4 linked regions of the Homo sapiens genome follow. The protein of the gene in region 2 interacts with the protein of the main gene of each other region in a pairwise test. Each region holds a gene or a part of one and is shown on either strand. Other genes may lie near its edges.

Evidence for each region.
Region 1: the proteins of TMEM140 (region 2) and SPACA1 interact in binary tests that used the Homo sapiens proteins (3 or more experiments, as listed by UniProt).
Region 3: the proteins of TMEM140 (region 2) and FNDC9 interact in binary tests that used the Homo sapiens proteins (3 or more experiments, as listed by UniProt).
Region 4: the proteins of TMEM140 (region 2) and MILR1 interact in binary tests that used the Homo sapiens proteins (3 or more experiments, as listed by UniProt).

Annotation. Positions count from the first base shown.
Region 1 is NC_000006.12:88,043,662-88,050,865, reverse strand, and holds the start of SPACA1 (sperm acrosome membrane-associated protein 1 precursor), read right to left. Parts: upstream 3,026-7,204; 5' UTR 2,961-3,025; coding exon 2,753-2,960; intron 1-2,752. UniProt on the Homo sapiens protein: Plays a role in acrosome formation and establishment of normal sperm morphology during spermatogenesis. Important for male fertility.
Region 2 is NC_000007.14:135,151,067-135,158,093, reverse strand, and holds part of TMEM140 (transmembrane protein 140), read right to left. Parts: intron 1-7,027.
Region 3 is NC_000005.10:157,342,656-157,349,695, forward strand, and holds the start of FNDC9 (fibronectin type III domain-containing protein 9), read right to left. Parts: upstream 3,023-7,040; 5' UTR 2,886-3,022; intron 889-2,885; 5' UTR 882-888; coding exon 207-881; 3' UTR 1-206.
Region 4 is NC_000017.11:64,459,096-64,466,122, reverse strand, and holds part of MILR1 (allergin-1 isoform Allergin-1L precursor), read right to left. Parts: intron 5,302-7,027; coding exon 5,191-5,301; intron 672-5,190; coding exon 582-671; intron 1-581. UniProt on the Homo sapiens protein: Immunoglobulin-like receptor which plays an inhibitory role in degranulation of mast cells. Negatively regulates IgE-mediated mast cell activation and suppresses the type I immediate hypersensitivity reaction.

The sequences.
Region 1 (7,204 bases), on a different chromosome or scaffold from region 2:
AAATCTAATATCTTAATGATTTTTCTTTATCTTGAAACATTGTGATATTTCATCATCCATAATGATGGTATTGCTCATTATTTTCAACTACATTTTTAAATGACTAAAATTTAAAAATGAAAGAATGATTGGAATTGCCTAGAAAAATAATGTAATGGTGAAAGAATTACACTAACACAAGCTATTTTACAACATCCCATGTTTTCATATTGCTTTGCCCAAGATATTGCATCATCTTTCAAGAAGATACAAAAGAAGTCTAGAGGTATCCTCCTTGTAGTCTATTTTTGGCTTTTATTGAACACAGTTGAGATTTCACAATTTTTCATTTTTTGCCCATAATGGCAAAGAGAAGAAAACTGACAGAGAAAAACATTTCACAATTATTGAACGAATCAGAAGATGAAAAGAGACAGATAACAGCACTTTGGATGCTAATGATGATGATGAAATTGATTGTATAAGCAAAATCTCAATGAGAGATGATGATTATCTTGGATGAATATACTAGATGAATTTTCTCTAACTTAAGAATTGATGAGTAAACATTATATTTCTGGGGATGAAAAGAATATATGGTATTATCATGTAGTTAGCCTGACAACAGGAAAGATTTAATCCTGAAATATACTGTGACAATAACTTGTGCCATACTGTTTCGCTAAAAGGATGAGGACGGTATTCTTTCCCTTTTTATAACGTTTATGCACCAACATTTATTTGCCAAGGTTTGTAAATGAACATATTGTGATGAAAGATATGTATATAAAGGTGACTGAAAGAAAAGATTATGTAGAAATGAGTAAAATTCATTGGACCAATCATTCTAATTGGTGTTTATAAATCTAAAGATGAAAATATTTTCCAATTATGAAGAAAAGAAGATGGCTTTCTCTTCAACAAAATATATGCCTTTGTAGTTTTCAAAAGTGTTGGTTTTTTTGACAATACAAGTGCAAAAAGAACCAAGATTAATGATAAGCTAGAATTTATTAACGATGCACTCAAAATCTGGAATCAGTATTAACATGATGAATGCATTCCAGGTTCATGCTTAACAGTTGAGCACTTAGTTGCATTCAAAGTACTTTGCCCAGTTAGAGTACATACACCTTCAAAACTAGGATATATGGAATAAAAATTTGAATTTTTCCATGTTTAAATTCTTCTTGAAATTTCTAACACAGTTGTTTTCACTATCCCTTTATTCTTATTTGTAAATTATTTTTAAATGACTAAAAAAAAATTAAAGGTCCACTGGATAGTAAATGGGGATAACTGTTTCTACTGATCCACTGAGGGTTAAGGGGACAGTGCAAATTTCAATAATGGTTCTGGAAATTTTCAGACCTATAACACCTCAGATTGTTTAAAGTTTTGGATTCTCTCGCTCCCCAAGAAAAAGCACTTATGCATGAAATAGTATGTATTAAAATCCCACAAAGTACATGGATTCCTTGAAGTCCGTAGATGAGGAAACTGTGACTCAGAGAATAAGTAACTAACCTACATTTTAATTTGAAGGTAAGACATTATAACTTTATTGCCTGAGTTTAGCCTAAATAATATTTAGCATTTTATAGCTAGAAGTATTTCTTGGCCAGTTTAATACTAAAATTGTTAATTCAATTACTTTAAAGAAGAGAATGAAGCAATAGCTACTATGCTTTAGGACGTGTTCTCTTCTTTCCTAGTCATCTTTCTTTTTCACATTTCCGAAGTCAAGGATCTTTTTAAGCTCTCTGTAGTATAATGTTACAAGGCCGTGCAAACCTCGATCCCACTGTTAACCTCAGACAGTTCATTTCTTTCTGTTGGTGCTGAGGATCACTATCAGGAAATGAAAGAAAGGCTGGTAGACACAGCAGTCACTCGATATGTATAGACTGAAGAGATATGAGAATGCAAACAATATTAAAAGAATTGCAGCTGGGTCATTTAGAAGGGAAAGGAATAATCTTTCTTGAGAAGGCAGCAAACCTGCTGCTGACCTTCTACCTGCTAGAATGTGAGTTACTAATCAATATGACATGTACAACAGCCTGTCAAGTTTTATTGCTTAATGAGCCAGCAGAAAAAAAAGCAAATGTATGTACCAAGCGGGGGGCTCATTGTTCCTTGGTTAATATGTAGCATCTAACAAAGCCACTAGCTGGATCCCTTGACAGGTGTTTTCTACTGCTCCATTCCTTTGTCCGAGGCCGCACATACCAATCAAACACCACAATGCAGAGGTGCTCAAGGCTAGGAGCTGCAGGAAGCTGCCATGGGGCTTCTGGGCAGTTTTGTCGGCATACTGGTCTATCTGGGTGTATCGTCGTAAAGGGGGATTCTGAATTCCATTGCAACCCCAAGTGCAAATGTGGAAATCAAGCAACTTGGAACTTGAAAAAAAAAATCTACTATGAGAAGGGAAAGTGACTGCAAGAGGAGTCAAAATGATTCCTCTTGTTGGAAGGCTACCTCCCACCCTGAAAAAAAATCTTTTTCCTTGTCCAAAGCAATATTTAGAAGTGTTTCTATAGCAATTTCTATATACGTGCTTATCTGTGTATCTTGCTGTGGCCTGGGAGAATGAGCACATTCTTCTTCAAGGCCACAGGATGCAAGAAAGGGACAAACTCGGGGCTGAAGTATGAGAGAGAGCTCTCCTGACGTTAACACACATAATTATGGTTCTCAGGCAAAGAGCAGGCCTTTGCTCCGTCAACAGGGGCCTCCGCGTGCCCCGCAAGGGAGCTCCCGCCCTCACCATCCTCGGTTTCAGGCGGAGCGTAGTTCTCCGCGGTCTCGCTGTCGTTGTTTTCGGTCTCCTCCTCGCCCTCGCCTTCGTGGGCCAGGCCGGCATCCTGGACGGCAGCGGTGACGTTGGTCCCGCGCGCGGACTGGAGGCCCGCCAGAAGCAGCCAGCCGACAGTCATCAGCAGCCCGGCGGAGCAGCCCGTGCCCCTGGGGCTCATGGTTCTCGGCCCCGACGGCCGTCCGAGGCGCAGTCGCCGCCGCGGCTCCTGAGGACAGGTACGTCGAAGAGAGCTGCGACACCCCGCCCGTAGCCGCCCGGCTCCGAATCCCGTGACGAACCGTGACGCCTCAATGGTTGCCGGGGCGCTGCTCCGGTGCTGAGCGCCTGGAACTCGCGCGGAGCTAGGCTGCGAGGCGTGCAAGACGGAACGCGACGAGAAGCCGCGTGCGACAAGTCCCTAGGAGAGGACGCCGCCCTTCCCCGCAACCGGAAGTTCCCTGCCCAGGGCGCCTCCTTGAGCCTTCCGGGTGCGGTAGGCGTTGCTGTCGGCTGCTCCTTCTGCCTCAGTTTATGGAGCGACTCTTCAGCCTCCTCGCTCACCCTGCCTGCTTTCTTTTAAGACATTTCTTTTTCGTACATAATGTTTACCCTTCCCCAAACTAGACTTCTTATCCCTCACATACTCTTCGTGTGACTTGGTTTCAAAATTTCTTATCCAGAATATCCAATTTGGGATGTATTGAGAAGGATTCGATTTCTTCTTTGGGATCAGAATAATAGACTTTGAGTAAGAAGAAATTTAGAAATCATCTGATACTCCAAGTCCCTCATTTTTAAGTGAAGAGATTAAGAATCAGAGAGATGAAATGACTCGCCCCAAAAATCCAGAAATTATTTACAAAGCTGGATCTCACAGTCATATCTCCCGAACACTTACTTACTCGATGATCAGTGATTCTTATGATTCAAGGTTAACGAAGAAGCCTTTAGTGGGGGTGATTGGGAGTTCAAGCGCTGAAAAGTTAGGGTTGACTTTTTTGATTCTGTTATTACAAATTTTACCTCATCTAGTAGTCACAATGTGGTTGTTTGTTGTTGTTTTTGAAAAGACATATAGGGTGCCATACTTTGAGGCTTAATGTTTAAATTCCTATGACAAGTGAGATGAAAGTGAACTTGCATACACTCTGGCTTTTGGAATATTTGAATATCTAGTCTCAGCAGACTAACAGATAAGGGGGGTAACAGAAAAGTATTAAGAGGTTCTTCAGAAACACTTATTTGTAACAAAATAGGTTGTTTGAAGCAGAAGTTGAAATTTTGTATTTGAATATTTTCTCCTGCAAAGGCTTCTAATTTTGAAAATACAAGGACTGCTAAACACCTTCAGTGTTAAAGTTCAAATTGGTATTGGTGAGAAGTCTCGGGAACATTTATGTCAATTAAAATACCTTAAAATATAGCGCTTGACAAGATTATGAGGGACGTTAACATGGAAAACTTAGATTTGATCTTGAGAAGTAAAGGCCTTTGTTTCATGGCTAAATGAGTCAAAATTTTTCTTTTTTGAATCCTGAGAGAAATAAGTCAAAAATTATGCCGTCAAACACAAACTTTAAAAAGATGATATATAGTATTGTTGCTGGCAAATTGTTGAGTGTTTCAAAGTCAATTTTAGGATCCATTGCTTCCTGAAGATAGTATCCTTTTTTAGCAGAGGAAGTCCCATAAACTCTAAAATATGTAATTTGACTCAAGGAAACATTAATAATCTAACAAATAATCATCTCCAAAGGGAGCCAGATGGGTCTCAAAGAGGACCTGAAAGATTTAACTCTGAAATAAAGACTATTAATATCTCTAATAGCAGCATTATAAATCACCTATAAAATACCATGTCACGCATGTAAGTTATAAGAAAAAGTATAATATCTGTCCTCAACAAACTTTTACTGTCTCTCTAGTACTCTCTCTAGCCACAAATAAATGAAAGATAAGTGTTTAGCCAGAAGGGCAGGGCACAGAATCTAGAGGGACTGACCCTACTCTAACCTGCAGATACTAAGGAGCAGGAATTCCACCCTGGATCCCTGATATGCTCCTCTGACCCACCTCATCCTGCCTGGAACTAAGCATCTCCACCCCCATCTCCAATTTCCAAGAGGTGGGGATTAGAGCCCAAACTCCTCTGCCCCACTCTGCCCAAACATAGCTCACCTATCTTGGTCTGACCTTACCTTGCTTGGCCTCATTTGGTATGTGGGAAAATCATTCCTCTATCCAGTCTCTGCACTACCTACCCTTGAAGACCAATTTGTATTCTGAAAAGGAAGACCAATTTGTGTATGTGTGATATAAGCACAAGATAATCAAGGCCTAAATAAAGGATTACCATAAAAATGAAAAGAGAAATGAATGTGAGAGAAATAACAAAGGAAGGATTAACAAAATGGAATGACTGGCTGCCTAAGCAGGATAAGGGAGTGAGGGAGGGAGCAAATAAAGGGAATTAGGAAAGTCAGTAGACATTTTGTTTAAAGGTTAAGTTGGAGGTATCAACAGAAGTCAAGTGAAAACATTCGTTGGGCAGCTTGAGATGACCACATACCAAAAAAGAAGATGAAAATCACTGATACACGCCACGAGCATGAAAAAATACACACACACACACACACATTCAGTTAATACAATGTTCTAAGTACTGCTATAACATTAGAAACTTTACAGTGATATTTGTGAAAATCATTATCTGTGAGATAAAATCGATTTTGGCTTTAATATGCTTGATTTGGTAAAAAGCCTTCTCCATAGTAATCCCCCAGAGAGAAGGTTCTCTCTGGGTGATATTTCTAACCTTTAGGGGAGAAGAGGTTTCTCTTTTGGAGCAAGATCCCAGAGGCAGGATTTCTCCCCTGGCTCTTTTGTCTCACACCCTTACCTCTGTTGTGTCCTTATTCTGTGTCCATCACTTAAAACTGTATTGCTACACAATGTGGGAATTTTGTGGTAGAAACTGTAGGAAACCTACTGCAGGAAAAATATAGGCATAAAAAATTAAAAAGCTGTAGGAACCCCCCTGGATTTTTGAATATAGGAATAGCAGCTTCAAATGGTTGGACTGTATCCTCTCAATAAAATGTAACTGCCTACAAAGGCCCTACCTCACTGAAGGTCTTCTTAAGCCAATAAGAATTTCCATGTGTTAAGGGAAGAGTGGTACCCATAAGATGTTCTATTTTAATAAGAAGAATTTTAAAAGCCATTGAAAATTAAATAATATTCTAGAGCAATGTGGTTGGCATTTGTGACAGGAATAAGTATCACATTGTGAATAAGTCTTGATAGAAAGCATATGGTACTTTCATATTCCTCTATTTGCAGGGCTGTGTAAACCACATTTTCTAAGATTGAATAAGGTCTCCTATCTGTAGTTATTCAGGTTATAGATGCACAGCCTCACTCAGCTACATGTGCCCAGATTAATACATGAAACAGAATTTTAGAATGTACCTATATCATTGAGTTTGCCCCACAGCTTTTGTGATCATATCTTTTGTTTTTTTTTTTTTTACTTTTGAGTCCATGGTAAGAACAAGTTCTCTCATTTCCCTTGGTTACTGAGGAACAAGATCTATCCCACTGTCCCATTTCACTACTTCTCTACCGACTCCCACTCCAAACTCAACTGCTTTCCTATTTTGTCTCCCTAATACTCCTAAAATAGATGTGTCCCTTACCCTGCTTTCTAAACATGGATTCCCTGGTGACAAGCCTGAATTGTCCTAATTTCTGAACTCAAAGTTTCCCCCAGAGTCTCAAATTTACAGTTTCTCCATCTAACTCTACTCTGTACCACCACCACAGCACAAACTGTACAGTGTGTTACAACTCCCATGGTTTCAGGATATTTATTAACAAGCTATATAAAAGTCTACTACCTTTTGACATATACAGCACAATTATACCAGAGCTTTTACACTTTTCACACATGTAGATTAAGGAGAATCTCAGAACTGGATATCTTTAGAGTCTTTAGGAATTCTTGCATGGAACCACTAAACATCAGATGCACCTAAATTATCTTAGGATTTTAATTTTACTTTCAACCGTCTAATAACACAGGACAGGCATTCTGGGGAAGAGTGCTTTGGAAGCAGGTAAAAATACAAGTTGTACTTCCCAAAACTCATAGGTACTCACCTTAAAAATTCTCTAGTTACTTTGAGGTGTGAGTAAAGATTTTCTTCCAAAATAAGATTTTTTAAAATAGCATTATTGAGACATAGGCCATACAATAAGCTGCACACATCTAAAGTAAAGAAGTGCAACTTAAAATCACAATGAGATACTACTTTACCTCAGCCAGAATGACCATTATTTAAAAATCAAAAAACAGTAGATATTGGCATGGATGCAGTGTAAAGGGAACCCTTACACACTGTTGGTGGGAATGTAAATTAG
Region 2 (7,027 bases):
ATGTGGCTGAAGCTGCTGCCCAGTCAAGGAGAAACAAGGAATCTATGCTCTCCCGCACATACCTAGGACAATACCCAGTGCCTGCTACGGGTTGCTGTGAGACCGAGACTCAAGTAGACCACCCTCCCTACAGCTTCTTGACCATGCTGCTCACCTGATAGGGGCCCCACCTTCTCTGTTCACAAGCCCACAGCTGGCACCATTTTGAGAGTTTAATGCTGATTCATAACCAGTCTGAATTAACAATCAGGCAATGTGGCTGCAGCTGCCACCCTGGTAGGAAAGGGACAGGGAAGACCAAGCTCTCCTAAGCACACTTAGAACAGTGCCCACCACCCTGCTACAGGTGGCTGTGAGACTGGGGAGTAGCTCACCCAACCCATCACAGCTTCCAGCAACACCAACATGGACTGCTTGGATCCCAGTTGGCTGCTTCAACAGTGCTACTGCCATCACTCACATGACACCACCTGCTCAGGGGCTAGAGATCATGCCCACACACTGGGCTCACCACTCCCACTACTAGCTTCTAAGCAAGCCATGTGGAGGCCCAAGAATCAGCCCTCCAAGACCCACTAACCACCAGAGCAGCGTAAGCTGCTGTGGGGCCTAAAAAGGGCACACTTACCCCACTGTTGCCACCACTGGGGTCCAAAGGCTGCTCAGTTGGCATCCAAGTCCCAGCTAAACTTCTGGGGACTTAGTCTCAGCTAATTACCATACTCTATCCCACTGAGGAAATCACAGAGAACACTGACCCTATGCCGAAGAAGTCATAGAAAGATCACACGACTGCAGGCATCCAAAATCAAAGTCAAAGCATCTTAACAACATGCATATATCCTCAGGAAAAAATTCTCCCTTATAAAAGCAATTTCAAAAAATTGGAACAAGCAACTGCTACACCAGACGCAAAGAAATCAATGGAAGGATACAGGAAACATGTAAAAGCAGAGAAACATGACACCATTGTATTAGTCCATTTTCACACTGCTGATAAAGACATACCTGAGACTGGGAAGAAAAAGAGGTTTAATTGGACTTACAGTTCCACATGGCTAGGGAGGCCTCAGAATCCTGGCAGGAGGTGAAACACACTTCTTATATGGTGGTGGCAAGAGAAAATGAGGAGGAAGCAAAAGCAGAAACCCTGATGAACCCATCGGTTCTCATGAGACTTATTCACTATCACGAGAATAGCATGGGAAAGACCAGCCCCCATGATTCAGTTACCTCCCCTGGCGTCCCCTCTCACAACATGTGGGAATTATGGGAGCTACAATTCAAGTTGAGATTTGGGTGGGGACACAGTCAAACCGTAACAATCATCAAAGAACCACAACAGCTGTCCAGCAGCAGCAGATCCCAATCAAAGAGAATTCTTCAAAATGCTAGATAAAGAATTCAAAATATTGATTTTAAAGAAGCTCAATGAAGTGCAAGAGAAATCTGAAAACTAATACAAAGAAATCAGAAAATTAATCCAGGATATAAATGAGAAATTTATCAAGGAGATAGACATCTTAAATAAAAACAAGCAGAAATTCTGGAACTAAAAAATTCATTGAAGGAAATACACCATATGCTCAAAAACTTCAACAGTAGACTACACCAAGCAGAAGAAAGAATCTCAGAACTCGAAGACAGGACTTTTGAAATAATCCAGTCAGACAAAAATGAGGAAAAAAGGATAAAAAAGAATGAATAAAGCCTTTGAGATGTCTGGGACTGCAAGAAGCAACTGAACTTATGAATTATTGGTATTTCTGAGGGGGAAGAGAGATTAGAAAGTTTAGAAAACATATTTAAAGAAATAGACATCCAGATACAGGAGGCCCAGTGATCCCCAGGAAAATACATTGCAAAAGGACCTCACCATGGCATATTCAAAATGTCTGAAGTCAAGTGAAAGAAAGAATTTTAAAATTAGCAAAAGTGACTAGTCACCTATAAAGGAAATCCCAAATCTCATCAGACCAATTGAGGACTTTTCAGCAGAATTCTTACATGCCAGAAAACAATGGGATGGCATTTTCAAAGTGCTAAAGGGAAAAAAAAAAACAGTGTGTCTGTCAGCCAAGAATTTTGTATCCTGCCAGAATAAGCTTTATAAAAGGAGAAATAAAGTCCTTCCCATACAAGCAAATGCTGAGGGAATTTGTCACCACTAGACTGGTACTACAGGAAATGCTCAAAAGGATCTTAAACACTGAAATGAATGGTGTTTTTAATTAATTATTTTTGATAGAGGGTCTTGCTTTGTCACTCAACCTGGAATACAGTAGTGCAATCACAGTTCATTGCAGCCTTGACCTCGTGGGCTCAAGCAATCTTCCTGCCTCAGCCTTTTGAGTAGCTAGAAATACAGACATGTGCCACCATGCCCGGTTAATTTTTAATTTTTTTGTAGAGACAAGATCTTGCTATTTTGCCCCGGTTGGTCTTGACCACCTTCCATCAATTAATGCCCCTGCCTGGCATCAATTAATCCCCCTGCCTAGCATCCCAAAGCACTGGGATTAAAGGCATGAGCCACGATGCCCAGCCAAAAGGTTGATATTCACCATCACAAAAACATACAGAAGTATAAAACTCATAGTTTGTATAAAACAATCATACAAAGGAAGAGAAAGGAATCAAATGGCAACATGACAGAGTTTCATCAAAACACAAAGTCAAAAAGGCAAAGACAAAGAGTCTATAAAACAACCTGAAAACAATAAACAATATAACAGAAACAAAGTCTCACAGATCCATATTAACCTTGAATGTAAATGGATTAAATGCTCCACTTAAAAGATACAGATTGGCAGAGTGGATGAAAAAACATGATCCATGCTGCTTACAAGAAACTAACCTTACCCATAAAGACATATAGACTGAAAACAAAGGGGTGGAAAAAGATATTCCATGTAATTATAAACCAAAAGCAAGCAGGCATAGCTATACTTATATCTGATAAAACAGATGACTTTAAATTAAAAATAGTAAGAAAAAAGATAAGGTCATTGTATAATGATGTAGGGATAAATTCAGCAAGACGATATAATAGTCCTAAATATATATGTACCCAACATTGAAGCACCCAGATTAACAAAACAAATATCACTAAAGAAAGAGGTAGACAGCAATACAATAACTGTAGGGGACTTTTAACACTCCACTCACAACACTAGACAGATCATTGGGACAGAAAATTAACAAAGAAACATTGTACTTAAATTGAACTTTAGACCAAATGGACTTATAAAACATTCTACCCAACAACTACAGAATATACATTATTTTTGTCAGCACATGGAACATTCTCCAAGATAGATCACATGTAAGGCCACAAAAGAAGTTTTAACAAACTTTTTAAAAATTGAAATTATATCAAGTATCTTCTCAGACCACAGTGGAATAAAACTAGAAATCAATACCAAGAGGAACTTTGGAAACTATACAGATAATGGAAATTAAACAGCATGCTCCTGAACAACTACTGGGTCAATGAAGAAATTAAGACAAATTAAAAACATCTTTGAAATGAATGCAAAAACACATTGTACTAAATCCTGCAGGTTACAGCAAAAGAAGTGCTAAGAGGGAAGTTTATAGCATTAAATGCCTACATCAAAAAAGTAGAAAGATCACAAATTAACAACCTAACATTGCACCTCAAGGAATTAGAAAAGGAACAAACCAAATCCAAAGTTAGCAGAAAAGAAAAAATAAAGATCAGAGCAGAACTAAATGAAACAGGGACAAAAAATTTACAAAGGATCAATGAAACTAAAAGTTCATATATTAGTTCTTGGGATCAATGAAAGTAAAAGCTGATTATTTGAAAAGATAGACAAAATTGATAAACCACTAGCTAGATTAACCAAGAAGAAAGAAGATCCAAATAAACACAATCAGAAATGAAAAAGACATTACAACTGATACCATAGAAATGCAAAAGATCATCAAGGACTATTATGAACAACTGCATGCTCACAAACTAGAAAAACTAGAGGAAATAGATACATCCCTGGAAACACAAAATCCCCCAAGATTGAACCAGGAAGAAATAGAACTTCTAAACAGACCAATAATGAGTAGTGAGATTGAATCAATAATAAAAAACTCCCAAGAAAGCTTAAGACTAGATGTATTCACAGCCAAATTCTACCAAACATACAAAGAAAAACTAATACCAATAATCCTGAAACTATTAAAAAATCAAGGAGAAAGGAATTCTCCCTAACTGATTCTCCGAGGCCAGGGTCACCCTGATACTAAAAACCAGACAAGGACACAGCAGAAAATGAAAACACAGACCAATATCCCTGTGAACGTAGATGCAAAAATCCTCAACAAAATACTAGTAAATCAAATCCAATGGCACATCAAAAAGATAATACACTATGATCAGATGGGATTTATTGCAGGGATGCAAGGATGGTTCAACATATGCAAATCAATAAATATGATACCCCAGGTTGCTGGATTGCGTGGTTTTTCAGTTCTTTGAGAAATCTCCATACTGTTTTCCCTAAAAGTTGTATTAATTTACATTCCCACCAACAATGTATAAGCATTCCCTTTTCTCCACATCCTTGACGACATCTGCTGTTTTTAGAGTTTTTAGACTTTTTTTTTTTTTTTTTTTTGTGGAGATGGAGTCTTGCTGTGTTGCCCAGGCTGGAGTGCAGTGGCATGATCTCAGCTCACTGCAACCTCTGCCTCCCAGGTTCAAGCAATTCTTCTGCCTCAGCCTCCCGAGTAGCTAGGACTACAGGTGCGTGACACCATGCCCAGCTAATTTTTGTATTTTTAGTAGAGACAGGGTTTCACCATGTTGGCCAGGATGGTCTCGATCTCCTGATCTCGTGATCTGCCCACCTTGGCCTCTGAAGGTGCTGAGATTACAGGCATGAGCCACCATGCCCTGCCTAGACTTTTTAATAATGGTCATTCTGACTGGTGTAAGATAGTATCTCATTGTGGTTTTAATTTGCATTTATCTGGTGATTAGTGATGTTGAGCATTTTTCATATGTTTCTTGGCCACTTGTATGTCTTCCTTTGGAAAATGTCTGTTTATGTCCTTTACCCACTTTTTAATGGGATTGTTTTTTCTTGTTGAGTTGTTTGTGTTCTTGTAGATTCTGGATATTAGTCCTTGGTCAGATGCATAGTTTGGCAGCCCCTTCCCCATCGGGCACCACCAGCAGCAGTTGCTATCATGGCCTTGAGGACTGCCGCATGGAACTTACATGTTTTAATTTTGCTGCTGTTAAACATTACACACTTTGCAAATTTTGCGGAGTAGAATATTAAAAGAAAAAACAGGTAAGCCATTAGGTTCCTAGGGCCTTTCTTTTAATTAATGATTTCAGAAAGCCAAAGGGGACCAGGGAGGGAAGAACTTGCTTTGATGAGACTCTTTGATCAGTGGAAGGTGTCTGAGAAGGAATCTAACTTTAGTGAGAACTTATTAATAATTAAAAACAGACCTCAAAATCTCTTGAGAATTTACTATATGCCAGGCCCTGTGCTAAGCACTTAACAGGTATTGTCTTATTAATTTCTTACAACCATGTAGGGTAGAGTTACTGTTTTCATCTTCATTTTCCAGAGAAGAAGACAGGCCTAGTAAGGGTCAGTAACTTGCCCAAGTTCACACAGCCAGTGAATGATGGAGCCTGTCAGGCTGCATTGTTAATCACCATGAGGATCTACCTCTAACTGGGGGCCTGGCCCTTTACGTGCATTAACTCATTTAATCTTCACAACACCCTTGTGTGGATGTTATTATCACTGTTCCCATTTGACGTAGTGAAGACAGTGTGGAATACTGGTTCTGAGCATGGACCTTGAAGCTATGGCTTCTGGGTTCAAGACTCTGCTCTTCCATTCACCAGCTGTGTGACCTTAGTTACTTAACATCCTTCTGCCTAGATTTTTCATCTGTAAAATGGCTTTAATTATATAACTTATTTTGTAGATGTTATGGAAATTAAATGAAGTAATTTGTGCATGGCATTTAGAACATGACCTGGTAAGTATTATTTAAATTATTACTACGATAGAGAGAAAACTGAGGCTCAGAGAAGTTAAGCCCAGGCTACCAGCCTGACAGTGGTGAGATTCTAGGAAGACAAATAGTGCCAGGGTTCATTCCCAGAGATGAACTCTAGGAAGCTGGTCTCATTTATGTTTGGTTGTGATGACTCCAGGATGCAGCTGCCTGTTGAGAGGTAGCACAGTGTGGTGGTAAGGAGCATGGGTTTTAGAGCCAGATGACCTGGGAGCATGTCGTCGTTCTGTCACTCACTAGTCATATGACCTTGGGCAAGTTACATAGCCAGCCTGAGCCTCACATCCTCATCTGTAATGCATCAGTTGTCACGTTCCTCATGGGCTGTTGTGAGACTGAAGGAAGTTCACTCACATATAGAGGGCTTGGGGCCTGACACAAACTGGGTCAATGTGTCTGCTCTGGTCATGATGCTGAAGCAATAGCTCAGTGGGAGAAACGGGAATTGACGGAGAGTCAGGTAGACATGGTTGGGTGTGTCGCCTGAATGGAGAGAGGAGAACTGGGAAGAAAATGTTAGCAGAATAAAGCCGGGGCAACAGAGCTTGCCAGGGCATAGAACAAGGGCGCAGGTTTACTTGTCAGAGGCCACCAGTCCTGGCTAAAATATTTCTGGTGGAACACATTGAAGATCAGTGTGCTCATGGTTTAGGTGTGGCTGTCACAAAAATAAAAAGGGAAGAAGAAAGGGAAATGTGTCATATTTCCTTTGGTAGAAACATGAGTCCAGGTTCTAATTCTTTTCAAAACAGGGCTACTGCAGTGTTTTTCAACAGTGTGTAGGTGGTGGCAGCTCCTGGATTTCACCAGTGTTTTCTGTGGACAGCCATCCCAACCACCAAGTTTTTAATGAATGCTGTGATGTTTTGATTTACTTAATTATTCCATGTAAATAAAACAGCTTTATCAGACAAAATAGGACTATACCATGAGATTATAACATAAAGTCAGAAGCATGAGT
Region 3 (7,040 bases), on a different chromosome or scaffold from region 2:
GCCTCGTTTGTGCCTTGGCATACCCTGGGGGATACATTTTCCAGCTTGAGAAGCTTTGTCATGGGGCATTCATCCAACCCAGGTGACCTACAATAGCAGTGACGTTTGATGGGAGAGAAATGGGTAGTCTATAGACACATTTGTACAAACGACCTACTGTGTGGAAAGCTTTAGGCTACATGATGCGGGCGCTCTCCTCCCCACTCTCATTCCCCACAATGAGGCAGTATAGCGGGTGGGTCACCACCCCCCCTCTGTAAGGCACCCGCATCAGGGGCATCCTGGTTGGCTTCGGGATCCAGTTCAGCTCCATCTCTGGAGTTCTTGCGTGGCATTTCCACCAGGGGGAGCCCCTGCAGGTCTTCCTCCCTCTGACCAAGATCCGGGGCCTCCTCTGGCCATCTCACCAACCCATTGGCCTCCTCCATGTGGCCAGCCCTGTAAGACCATCGCGGCTCATGGCAACGGACACACCAGAACTGGAGGCAGATGAAGGCCAAGACGGCTGTGAAGCAGGCCAGCAGAATGGCCATCAGCACCCAAAGGGAGATCTGGGGGTCTACCAGGGAGCTTCCAGGAGCCAGCGGACTCTTATCCAGGGTGTGGAACATGGTGCAGTAGTGCCTGTAAGGGAAGGCAGCCTTCTTACAGCTGATGCACAGGAAGTAGAGAGTGGAAGGGGCAAGATGTTCCAGCACCACGGAGCTGATCGTTCGAGGCACCTTCTCCTCGTGGTGGAAGCTGTAGCGAAGATAGCCAGAGAAGATGCTGTTCCAGTTGGGCCTGTACATAATATGGTAATAGTCCTCCAGGCAGGGCTCCGAGGACGACCAGGAGATGATGGCTCCTGTATAAGAAATGTTCCCCACCTCGATGTTCATCCCGATTCTGGAACCAGAATCAAAGTGAAGAGTGACATCCCCTGATTTAAGTATGTATTTATCATAATCATAGCCACCATTTATTGCACATTTGAGACGGGCACTCATGTTGCCCTCATCTTACAGACAAAGAAATGGAGGCCGAGAGGTTCTGTTATTTAGGCATAGCGAAAAAGTGGCAGGACAAAAGTTAAAACTGGGGCTGTCCCATGCCAAAGTTCAGGCCTAAGAACAGATGCACCCATGCAATCCCAGCCACATCCCACCCTAGCTGAGATCCTTCAGATAACAAAGGGGATTTTCTTAAGGGGATTGTTCTCATCCCCTTAAGAAAAAAGAAGAAAAGGTAAGGAGAAATCAGTAGAACCTCAGAGGCTCCACCTTTATTCTCAGGTCTGTGACCTCCCCTCAGGCAATTGATTCACCTCAATTTTCCTTCTTGACCTCCTGTTTCTGCTCCAAGTACTGTGAGCTCAGTGATCTAGAACATTCTGCCCACTGCTTTTTTTAGCCTCCTGGTTCTGTTGCCCATGGTGAGTGGAAATTCGCTTCGTCACTCTTTGGCAGCTGATCTCACCCCAAAGCTTCTGCTCTTGTTTTGTTTGTTTGTTTTTTCAAAGCCAGCGGTACCAGGAAATTTATTTTATGGGTGAAGATAATCAGCCCCTAATATCAGCATAACTACCACTATTTAATTCTGCTGTTATTATGAATGTTAATCATGGTAATAACCACTCACAGTAAGTGGTTGCTATGTCACTTGTCATGCTAGATGATTCACAGGCAGTAATTAATTTCCTTTATTCTTCATCACATCCTCTGAGCTAGATTCCCATTTTACGGATGAGCAACCTGATGTCACACCGCTAATACGTAGAAAAAGGACTTAGTGCCGCCTAACCACTACATTTCCTAATGCAAGGCTGCCGGGTTTAGTTACAGACGTTATCGCAAAATGAGGTGCCAGGACTGAGACCCAGTTGCTGTTTTTCCAGACAAATCAAATGAGCCCTCTTTAGATTGCCAGGCCCCGCTTTGATAAGAGAGAGCCATCTTCAAGTATTTTAGTTTCTCTCATGCAGTTCCCTCTACTGATTGCCCCTGATCAGAAATACAGAGACAGTCATAGTCAGCCTACGCATATTCACATAACAGTCTCACCCTGCTTTGTCTTCCGCCTCTCCTCCCTCACATGAAACCCCGTAGGTTTCATTTTGGGTTGCAGTGACATAGTAAACAGCTGTCAACTGGATTTTCGCCTGCATTGGATATTAAGCCAAACCAATGGCTATTATGACCTGCCTTTCTCTCACCTCTGCTTTCCCCCATCCTCTTGTGTTTGTGCCCATTTTCCTCCAGGAGTGGAGCTGCAGAAAGGTGCACAGCATTGAGTAGTTTCTTAATCCTTGTTTTTCTTCTGTAAGGGTAACAGTGAACTAAGATACTCAGGAAGGTGAATAGTGTCTTTCTATGTGGCTGAATATTTCTTCCCAGTAAATAGGGAACGAAAGGGATGAGACGGATGTGCTCAGACCCTTCCAGGGAAGGTCATCATGAAGGAGACCGAATGTTTATGTTTCCTAGCTTGGTGTCCTCTACACACTCATCCTCCCCACACCACACATCACTATAAATACACTTTCGACCACGATGAAAAGAGCTTAATTCATTATAGGCAGCCACCTGTGTAAAACCTTTCCATCAGGAGTAATCAGGAATCCTGTTTCTTGTCACGCACAAATGTTCTCTTGGCTTCCTATCTGCCACTAGCTGTCTGTACAGATGGAATTACCTCAGCAGACATTTTTAAGAGCTTTCTGTCAAGACGCAAATAGCATCCTCACCTTTTAGGACCAGGTCCGTCTCCCTTATTGATTTTTCTTCCTCTGTTTCCGTTTCTAAATTCTCCCCTATTTTTAACTATTCATTTGCCCGGCCCTTCTCCAAGCAGAGTGTGAAAAGAAGCCATTTCCATTTCCAAGAAGAGCCATCTATATGTCTTACCTGATGCTTGCAGCGTGTCTGGTTAGAGCTCTGCCCTCCGAGGTGCAGTAGATTAAAGCTGAGAGAATGGGGCCTTCTCCCTCCTCTGCTCTGGGCTTTCCGTGTTGTTTCTCTCAACACTGAGTAATCCCACTGCCGCCCCTAATGCTCACATTATTCATTTCTTCAGATCAGCATCATTCACCATGGCAACCAGCAGGCATCTGTACGCACGATGCTTTCAGGGACCAGCCTGGAAAGGCTTTTGCCCAGTGAGAGGAGCTCTCATTCCTTTGGCTGAAAAAGGGCAGATGATCCCCTGAAAACTGGTCCCCAGTGCAGTACTAATTCTTCTAACACTCCTACATTTTCTCCCCAGTTGGCTGATTATTATTTTCTTGTCCCATCTAGATCCTCTTTGGCCAATGGTTTTAAATGCAAAGATGCTTTTCTCAGTTATTCCACAACCAAAGCAGTAATATTCATCTTCATCCCCTCCCACCCCTACACTTCCCCATCCCAACTGCCTACCCCACCTCTTTATCTTCATCTTTCTTTATTCTTGACTCATGTGCCATTACATAGTTATATGGTACTGGTCAAGACCCTTTTATTTTTATTGTCTGAGTCTCAGTTCCACCATCATCTGTAAAGCTGTGGGCTTGGGCTACATCAGGATGGCAGATCAGAAGGCAGAAGACCTGAGCCCTATCCCTGCACAGCCCTGAACCCCTGTCAAGCTTGCTAAACCATCATGGCACTCTCACTGGGTTGAATAATGCCCCCCCAAAATACATATCCATCCAGAACCTTAGGATGTGACCTGATTTAGAAATAGAGCCTTCGTAGATATAACTAGTTAAGGATCTCAAGATGAAATCTTCCTGGATTTAAGGGTGAGCCCTAAATCCAATGACTAATGTCTTTGTAAGAGAAAAGACAGAGAGACTCAAGGGGAAGAAGCCAAGGGAAAACAGAGGCAGAGAGTGGAAGGATGCTGCCATCAGCCAAGGAACACCGGGAGCCATCAGCAGCTGGGAAGGCAAGGAAACATTCTCCCCTAGAGCCTTGGAGAGGGCATGGTTCTGCGAGAGCCTTGATTTCAGGCTTCTGGTCTCCAGAACTGTGAGAGAATAAATTTCTGTCATGTTAAGCTGCCACATTTATGGTAATTTGTGATAGCAACCCTAGGAATCTAATGCAGCACTGCTTCCAGCTGGGTGCAGAAACAGCCCCAGAGTTCCTCTGAACACAAGCGTCCCAAGAAACTGCTTCCCAATCAATCAGTTGGAGTTGACGCCAGAAATGGAAACTGTTTGCTACTCCTGGATTGAATCATCCCCAGCGTTCCTTTCCTTTCAAGAATCCAGACTGCTTGCCTCCCCTTTTCTCATAAAGGGCCGTCTGGCTTTGAGGTTCCATCCCTTCCTGTTCCTTTCAACCTTGTAAGAACCCATTGCCACCATTCTATTGAGATCACAGGGTGTGTCTGGAATAGAGGGTGGAAAGTAGCTCAGATAGATGTAGACCTGAATAAATTTATACACATTATATGTTTTTAAAAGTCAGCTTTTCTCTTCTTGGTTCTTGGCCAAAGTATCCAAGTTAACCCATGAAGGTCTCTTTCTGATTCACATTAATGATAAAAGGTTAGGAAGAAAGCCAGGCACAGCTGCAGTGGTGTGCACCTGTAGTCCCAGCCACTTGGGAGGCTGAGGTGGGAGGATCACTTGAGCTTAAGAGTTCCAGACCAGCCTGGGTATTATAGAAAGACTTTTTCCCTTGGAAAAAAAAAAAAAAAAGAGCCGCCTTGGTGAGTTGTGACCCTACCCTTGGCCAAAGGTCTCCGGGAGGCTTGGAGTCTTGGGAACTCGGGAACAAGCCAGTGTTCCTTGATCAGAAAGTTGCTCTGCAGCTTGCCCATGGCATTCAGTCTTCCCAGGCGCCTGTCTTAAATCTGCAGCAATGCATGCAGCATGTCTCTTCCCATGCGAGCACAGCCAGGTCAAGTGCTAATGGTGAGTCCCCACGGAGCATAAAAGCATCCTCCCCACAGAAAGGCCACGCAGCTGTTTGCAGATGCCCTTTGAAAAGGTTATTTTGCGGGGAGTAAAAATACCAGAGTTAAGGGGTCTGAGGAGGAACAAGGTAGAACTCAAGCCTTTTTCCACAGAAAATTGGAATTTATTTTTAATATTCTTGGATGACATTTTTAACCAAGAGAAATTTTCCACTGTGGAATTAAGATACTCAGAGAATGTGAGGCCTCCAAGCCCTCTTGTTTCACAGTCCTGGGAGAAGACATGGCATTCCTCAGACCGCTTGACTGATGAGTGGCAGAGCTGCCAGTGAAATGGGGTGGGGCCCCAGACTCGGAGGCGGAGGCCAGGGTTCATCCCGCTCCTCTGAGCTGTCGCCGCTCACCAGCAGCACCCAGAGGAGCCAGTGCAGCCGTTTGTGAAGGAGATAAAGTATCTGGGACACCTGCCCCAGGACATTACACCCCAGCCAGGCTCACACTTTCTCCATCATCAGGGACAATTCCTCCAGAGTCTGTGCAAGTTGTAGCCTCTTCGCTCTCAGGCCAGGTGAGCCCCAGCTAGTTGACATCAGTAGTAAATTACTGCTAGAGGAAATCAGCTAGGAGCAAGGTTCTTCCACCCTTCCTGAAGGTGGCAGTGAAGGGATAATATGGGGCAAGCCCCAGTCCCAAAGCTGGATTGGCACATGGGGAAAGTGAGTGGCTCACAGAGCACGCCCTGGAATTCCCAGGCTGGAGTGCAGTGGCACAGTCATGGCTCACTGCAGCCTTGACCTCCCAAGGCTCAGGAGATCCTCCTGCCTCAGCCCCCTCAAGTAGCTAGGACTACAGGTGTGCACTACCACCCCTGGCTAATTATTATTATTTTTGAGCTGGAGTCTCACTCTGTTGCCCAGGCTGGAATGCAGTGGCAAAATTGCGGCTCACTGCAACCTCTGCCTCCCGGGTTCCAGTGATTCTCCTGCCTCAGCCTCCCGAGTACCTGGGACTACAGGTGTGCACCACCATGCCCAGCTAATTTTTGTATTTTTAGTAGAGACGGAGTTTCACCATGTTGGCCAGGCTGGTCTTGAACTTCTGACCTCAGGTGATCCACCCACCTCAGCCTCCCAAAGTACTGGGATTACAGGCGTGAGCCACTGCCCCCCGCCTCACCTGGCTAATTTTTGTATTTTTAGTAGATATGAGATCAGATAGTTGCTCTGCGGCTTTCCCATGGCATTCAGTCTTCCCAGGGGCCTGTCTTAAATCTGCAGCAATGCATACAGCATGCCTCTTCCCAAGAGCTAGTGGTGAGTCCCCACAGAGCATAAAAGCACCCTGCCATTGCAGTGAACCAAGATCGCACCACTGCACTCCAGCCTGGGCGACAGTGGAAGACTTCATCTCAAAAAAAAAAAAAAAGCATCCTCCCCACACCGTGTTGCCCAGACTGGTCTCGAACTCCTGGGCTCAAGCAATCCACCCACCTTGGCCTCCCAAAGTACTGGGACTACAGGCATTAGCCACCGCACCTGGCCAAATTCCCTCACTTTATGTATTTATTTATTTATTTACTTATTTCAGTTTTTTTTATTTCAATAAATTTTGGGGGAACAGGTGGTTTTTGGTTACGTAGATTAATTCTTTAGTGGTGATTTCTGAGATTTTGGTGCACCCATCATACGAGCAGTATACGCTATGCCCAATGTGTAGTCTTTTATCCCTCTCCCTCCTCCCACCCTTCTGAGTCTCCAAAATTCATTGTATCATTCTTAATGCCTTTCTGTCCTCATAGCTTAGCTCCCACTCAAGTGAGAACATAATCATGTTTGGTTTTCCATTCCCGAGTTACTTGACTTAGAATAATGGTCTCCAACTCCATCCAGGTTGCTGCAAATGCCGTTATTTCATTGCTTTTTATGGCTGAGTAGTATTCCATGATGTATACATGCCACATTTTCTTTATCCACTCATTGATTAGTGGGCATTGGGCTGGTTCCATATTTTTGCAATTGCGAATTGTGCTGCTATAAACATGCGTGTGCAATATCCTTTTCGAATGATTTCCTTTCCTCTGGGTAGATACCCAGTAGTGGGATTGCTGGATCAAATGGTAGTTCTCACTTTTAGTTCTTAAAGGAATTTCCACACTC
Region 4 (7,027 bases), on a different chromosome or scaffold from region 2:
TCATTCTTCTCTCTCCTACCGCCTTGGGAAGAAGGATGTGTTTGCTTCCCCTTCCACCATGATTGTAAGTCTCCCGAGGCCTCCCAAGCCCTGCGGAACTGTGGGTCAATTAAACCTCTTTCCTTTATAAACTACCCCATCTCAGGTATGTCCTTATAGTAGCATGAGAATGGACTAATACATCAGCCGAGGCGCTGGGTCTTGTTTACTGCAAAGCAATATGCAATGCCTGCTTTGAGAGGTGACCGTGAAAGACTGTGAAACACAGTGTGGATCATTCTGAACAGATGTGAAAAATCTCCAAGATACGTTGTTACATGAAAAAAAAACAAAATCATGGTGTAGAAAGTCATACCTACAATATGCTACAATCACTACCATTTGTTTATTATACACACAGAATATCTGTGGAAGGATTTAAAAAACTGGTTATTACCCCTAGAAAGTGGGACTGGGCATCAATAGACATTGAACTCTATCCCTTTTGCTCCACCCCCCACTCCCGTATGTCTGTACAACCTTAACAAAATAAAAAGACAAAAACCTGAAACCACCCAAAACACGCAACAAAGTTCTCTTACTTGCTTGTTTTTCAAGGATATTTGCATAGATTCCAACTTCCATGGCTGTGTCTCCACGGTCCCTGGGCACATTATTTCTCATAGCTTTTCCTACGTAAATAGGTAGGAATCATCAAATTAAACCAATTCAGCCACATTTTTCTCATCTCCTCGGCCAAGGAGCAGAATTCCCTCAAAGTTCTGAAACAGAGAGTGACTTGCTCCAATGGCCCAAACTGTTGTCTAACAAAGGAAAACTATAGACTCAACAGGGAGTCTAGACACCGCTCCTCCAAGCCAGGGGCTGTTCTGATTTATTTTCCTGGCCTTCAGAGGAACATGCTTTGCCTATCAGATTATGCCTGAACTAGCCAGACTTATTTTCTTTCCTTCGCTGAAGAGAATAGTCTGTGGAAGCTTTGTAATATCTTCAAGAGAGTGTAAATGGCCTATTGAATTCTTTTTTTTTAAGATGGAGTCTCGCTCTGTCGCCTGGGCTGGAGTGCAGTGGCACTATCGTGATCTCGGCTCACCGCAACCTCCGCATCCTGGTTTCAAGCGATTTTCCTGCCTCAGCCTCCCGAGTAGCTGGGATTACAGTTGTGCACCACCATGCCCAGCTAATTTTTGTATTTTTTTGAGACGGAGTCTTGCTCTGTTGCCCAGGCTGGAGTGCCATGGTGCAATCTCCGCTCACCGCAACCTCCGCATCCTGGTTTCAAGCGATTCTCCTGCCTCAGCCTCCTGAATAGCTGGGATTACAGGCATGTGCCACAATGCCTGGCTAATTTTTTGTATTTTTAGTAGAGGCGGGGCTTCACCATGTTAGCCAGGCTGGTCTCAAACTCCAGACTTCAGGTGATCAAAGTGCTGGGACTACAGGCATGAGCCACTGTGCCCGGCCAGCCTCACTGAATTCTATTGTAGCTCCAGCCAGTAATCAAAAATATTAATGCCACTTTTGCAAGAACCTGGACTTTTTATAAGAAGGAGAAACATGTTTTTAAGACATATGAGATGTGGGCCAGGGTGCAGTGGCTCACGCCTGTAATCCCAGTGCTTTGGGAAGCTGAGGTGGGAGGATCACTTGAAGCCAGGAATTCAAGACCACCCTGGGGAACATAGTGAGACCTTGTCTCTAAAAAGAATTTTGTAATTAAAAAAAAAACAAAAAACTGTAATCCCAGCACTTTGGGAGGCTGAGGCAGGAGGATGGTTTGAGTCCAGGAGTTCAAGACTAGCCTGGGAAACATGGTGAAACCTACAAAAAAAAAAAAAATTAGCCAGGCATGGTGGTGCGCGCCTGTGGTCCCAACTACTCAGGTAGCTGAGGCAGGAGGAGGCCTGGGAGGTCAAGGCTGCAGTGAGCCATGATTGCACCACCGCACTCCAGCCTTGGGTGATGGAAGTGAGATCCTGTCTCAAAAAAAAAAAAAAAAAAAAAAATGTCAGGCGCGGTGGCTCACCAGCCCCAGCACTTTGGGAGGCCGCGGTGGGCGGATCACGAGGTCAGAAGTTCAAGACCAGCCTGGCCAACATAGTGAAACCCCATCTCTACTAAAAATACAAAAATTAGCCTAGCGTGGTGGTGGGCGCCTGTAATCCCAGCTACTCAGGATGCTGAGGCAGGAGAAACGCTTGAACCTGGGAGGCAGAGGTTGCAGTGAGCGGAGATTGTGCCACTGCACTCCAGCCTGGGCAACAGAGCGAGACTCTGCCTCAAAAAAAAAAAAAAAAAAAAAAAATTAGCCAGGAGTTGTGGTGCATACCTGTATTCCCAGCTACTAGGGAGGCTAAGGTGGGAGGTTACAGTGAGCTATGGTGGCACCACTGCACTCCAGCCTGGGCAACACAGTGAAGCCCCATCTCTAAAAAAAAGAAATGAAATAAAATAAAATCTTAAAGATGCATCAGATGTATAACTTGTGACCTCTGTGTTCAAGTTTTATGTCAACTGAGTCCCTGACTTCTCTGAGTTGTGACTCTCTGGAGATGGTTCTCAATTGGTTCTCTTGCCAGTTCTGACAATATCTCCATGGCCCATTCCACAACTCAGAACACTGAGGCTCAGAAGCAACAGCCTGAGGGGCTTGTCCAACAGCCCTCAGCTTGCTGATGGGGGCCAGTGCTGAGACCCAAACTGTCTTTTGTGTAAATCTTCATATCCTTCTGCACTCGTGTACCAAATGAAAAAACCACTTTGAAGGCTTAACCAGTGGTGGCCATAAGACGTGAGGAATGAAAAGCAGTAACTGGGCTGAGTGCAGTGGCTCATGCCTGTAATCCCAGCACTTTGGGAGGCTGAGGTGGGAGGATCGCCTGAGTCCAGGAGTTCAAGACCAGCCTAGGCAACACAGTGAGACCCCGTCTCTAAAAAACATTTTTTTAAAAAAGCTGTAACTGAGGCTTCTAATAACATTGACAAGTTTTCTGCTGGATGTAGCACTTAAGGTGGGGAAGAGAGAAATGATGCTTTTTTGTTTCTGTTTTTGTTTTTTTGAGTCTGGTGTGTTTAATAAAGTTTTTTAAAAAATCTTATAGTAGAATAGATTATACTTCTACATTGAAAATCTAGAAAGCATAGAAATGTAGAAATAAAAAATATGTATATATTAGGTTGGTGCAAAAGTAACTGTGGGCCGGGCGTAATGGCTCACATCTGTAATCCCAGCACTTTGGGAGGCTGAGGCGAGCAGATCACCTGAGGTCAGGAGTTCAAGACCAACCTGACCAACATGGTGAAACCCTGTCTTTACTAAAAATACATGGTGGTGGGTGCCTGTAATCCCAGCTACTCAGGAGGCTGAGGCAGGAGAATCGCTTGAACCAGGGAGACAGAGGCTGCTGTGAGCCGAGATTGCACCACTGCACTCCAGCCTGGGCAACAGAGCGAGACTCCATTTCAAAAAAAAAAAAAAAGTAATTGTGGGTTTTGCCATAAAAGTATGGCAAAAATTGCAATTACTTATGCACCAACCTAATATTTTCAATACTTCCAGCCCCAAACAATTGTAAACCTTTTGAAGGTGTCTTTTGTGCTAATGGGATGACGCTTGTTTGTCCTCATGCACTGAACCTCCCCTACGTATGTGGCAGATCTAGAGTCACTCAAGGCAAAGCTCTCGCTTGAGGCACTTGCAGTCAGGAGCAGCCGCACCACTTGCAGCGCCCAGTGCGAAATGAACACTGTTCACAGGCCTTAAACTTGTGTTTAATTAAGAACACAAGTTCTTGGCCCGGCACAGTGGCTCACGCCTATAATCCCAACACTGTGGGAGGCCGAGGTGGGAGGATTGTTTGAGCCCAAGTGTTCGAGACCAGCCTGGGCAACATAGTGAGGCCCCGTCTCCATTTAATATAGAATAAAAAAAGAAGAGAGAGAGAGAGAAAAAAAGGAACACAAGTTCTTAAAGTCAGGACCGAGTACATCTTTCACAAGCAGTCATACGAGGAAAAGGGCCTCTTGTTTAAAAACATTAATAATTTCACACCCACGTTCCTAGCATTATTAAACAATAGACAAAAGGTGGAAGCAACCCGGGTACCCATGGGGGATAAATGGATAAACAAAGTGTGGCGTATTTATGTACAATGGGACATTCTTCAGTCTTATCAAGGAAGGAAATTCTGACACATATGACAACATGGATGAACCTTGAGGACATTAATCGAAGTGAAATAAGCCAGTTATGAAAGGATAAATGCTTCCACTTCCATGAGGTGCCTAGAGGAGTCAAACTAATGGAGATAGAAAGCAGAATGGTGGTTGGCAGAGCCCGGGGGAAGAGGGGATGGGGAGCTAGTGTGTAATGGGGACAGAGTTTCAGTTTGGGAAGATGAAAAAGTTCTGGACATGGATGGTGGAGAAGGGTGCATGACAATGGGAACGTGCTTAATGCCACCGAACTATGCATTTAAGCAGGTTAAAGTGGCCCATTTAGTGTTATGTATATTTTACCACCATTAACAATTTTTAAAAGAGCGTACAAAAAATTATGAAGAATTTCAAGATGCAGCCGGGAGCAGTGGCTCACACCTGTAATCCCAGCACTTTGGGAAACTGAGGCAGGTGGATCACCTGAGGCTGGGAGTTCGGGACCAGCCTGGCCAACATGGTGAAACCCTGTCTCTACTAAAAATACAAAAAATTAGCTGGGTATGGTGGCGGAAACCTGTAATCCCAGCTTCTTGGGAGGCTGAGGCAGGAGAATTGCTTGAACCCAGGAGGCGGAAGCTGCAGTGAGCCGAGATCGTACCACTGCACTCCAGCCTGGGGAACAAGAGCAAAACTCTGTCTCAAAAATAAATAAATAAATAAATAAACAAATACCAAATGTGGAGTTCTTCTTGGCACAGGGCCCTGTGTGACAGCACAGGCTGTACGTCTGTGAAGCCAGCTCTGCTTGCCCTCAAACAGAAAAGGCTTTCCCTGGAGAAAGAATTACCCTCTGCATGAACCGTTCAGGAAGTCTATTCCATTCCCGCCCCCCTTTCTCATGTTTTCCTCCTATTTTCATTTTCTCCCTATTCTATTTCCAATCCCCTTTTCTCTTTCTCCTCACCCTCTGTCCTGCTGTCTGTATCCCAAGCCCACGGGAAAACGGGTGGTAAAGCGACTAAAAGAACTTACTTGTTTTGTATTTGGGCAGTACCCAAAAAGCCAGAATTAGGATTATCACCACCAGCAACAGTAATAACCCTGGAAGTAGTAGCTTCAGACAGAAAGGACAGCTGTCTCCGCCTGGAAGAAGACCGCATCCATTGGTGACCATAGCATTTTCTTTTCCAATGACATTAAGCCAGTAAGTGTTTTAGAAAAGGTGATGTCTCCCAAGTTAACCAATGTACTATGCACCCAGGTTCCCAAATGGTCATGACATCTAAAACTCACGGGACTTATTAGTCAATAAAGTTCTTGACTGGGCGTGGTGGCTCACACCTGTAATCCCAGCACTTTCGGAGATCAAGGTGGGAGGATTGCCTGAGGCCAGGAGTTTGAGACCGGCCTGGGCAACATAGTGAGGCCCTGTTTCTACAAAATAAATAAATAAATAAAAATTAGCCAGGTGTGATGGCATGTGCCTATGATCCCAGCTACTCAGGAGGCTGAGGCAGGGTGATCGCTTGAGCCCGGGAGGTGGAGACTGCAGTGAGCTATGATTGTGCCACTGCACTCCAGCCTGAGGGACAGAACCAGACCCTGTCTCTATAAATAAGTTAATAAATAAACAAAAATAGGTTGAGCTCAGTGGCTTACACCTGTAATCCTAGCACTCTGGGAGGCCAAGGCAGGTAGATCACCTGAGGTCAGGAGTTTGAGACCAGCCTGGCCAACATGGTGAAACCCTGTCTCTACCCAAAATATAAAAATTAGCTGGGCCTGGTGGCGCGTGCCTGTATTTCCAGCTACTTGGGAGGCTGAGGCATGAGAATCGCTTGAACCCAGGAGGCGGAGGTTGCAATGAGCCGAGATCGTGCCATTGCACTCCAGACTGGGTGAGTGAGACTCCATCTCAAATAAATAAATAAATAAATAAATAAATAAATAAATAAATAAATAAATAAATAAAATAAAATAAAATAAAAATAATAAAGTTTAAAAAGTCATGACCAAGCACATCTTCCACAGGGGCCACCCAAAGAAGAGAAAAGCAGCACAGAATTTAACAGGACGAATACCAGCAACATTTCTGGGGTCATGAGCACCAGAAAAGCCTGGGTGTTTACTGGGCAAGGCCCTGAGCCCTGGCAGCATGTTTCGTGTCATCCAAACAACTGCCAGTTGTTGAGTTTTAGCTGCAGGCCAGACACTGTGTTAGGCACTTCACCTGTGTTGCCTTATTTATCCCATTGGCATCACTCCCATTTTATAGATGAGGTGAGTAAGGCTCAGGGAGGTGAAATGACTTTCCTAAGGTCACACAGCCAGTGAATGGAAGGGCTGTGACTCATAGCCAAGTGCCTGACTCCAGCAGGCTGCCTCACTTGTTAGACCACACTCACTGAATACCAGGGCGTGGGCTCTGTTCTGAGGACCTGGCTGGGTGAAGTGGTCAATGTCCAAGTGTGCCTTGTGCCTTTGCTAACCTAGTTTTTCTTTTCTTTCTTTTTCTTTTTCTTTTTTCTTTGAGACAGGGTCTCGCTCTGTTACGCAGGCTGGAATGCAGGGCACGATGATCACAGCTCACTGCAGCCTCGACCTCTCAGGCTCAAGCAATCCTCCTACCTCATCCTCTGAGTAGCTGAGACCACAGGCATGCACCACCACACCCGGCTAATTTTTTTATTTTCTGTAGAGACAGGGGTTTTGCCATGTTACCCAGGCTGGTCTCAAACTCCTGGGCTCAAGTGATCTGCCAGCCACAACCTTCCAAAATGCTGGAATTACAGGTGTGAGCCACTGCACACGACCTAGTTTTCCTTCTATCCTCCTACCTTGACAAATGCACCTTCAGAAGGACCTGGAA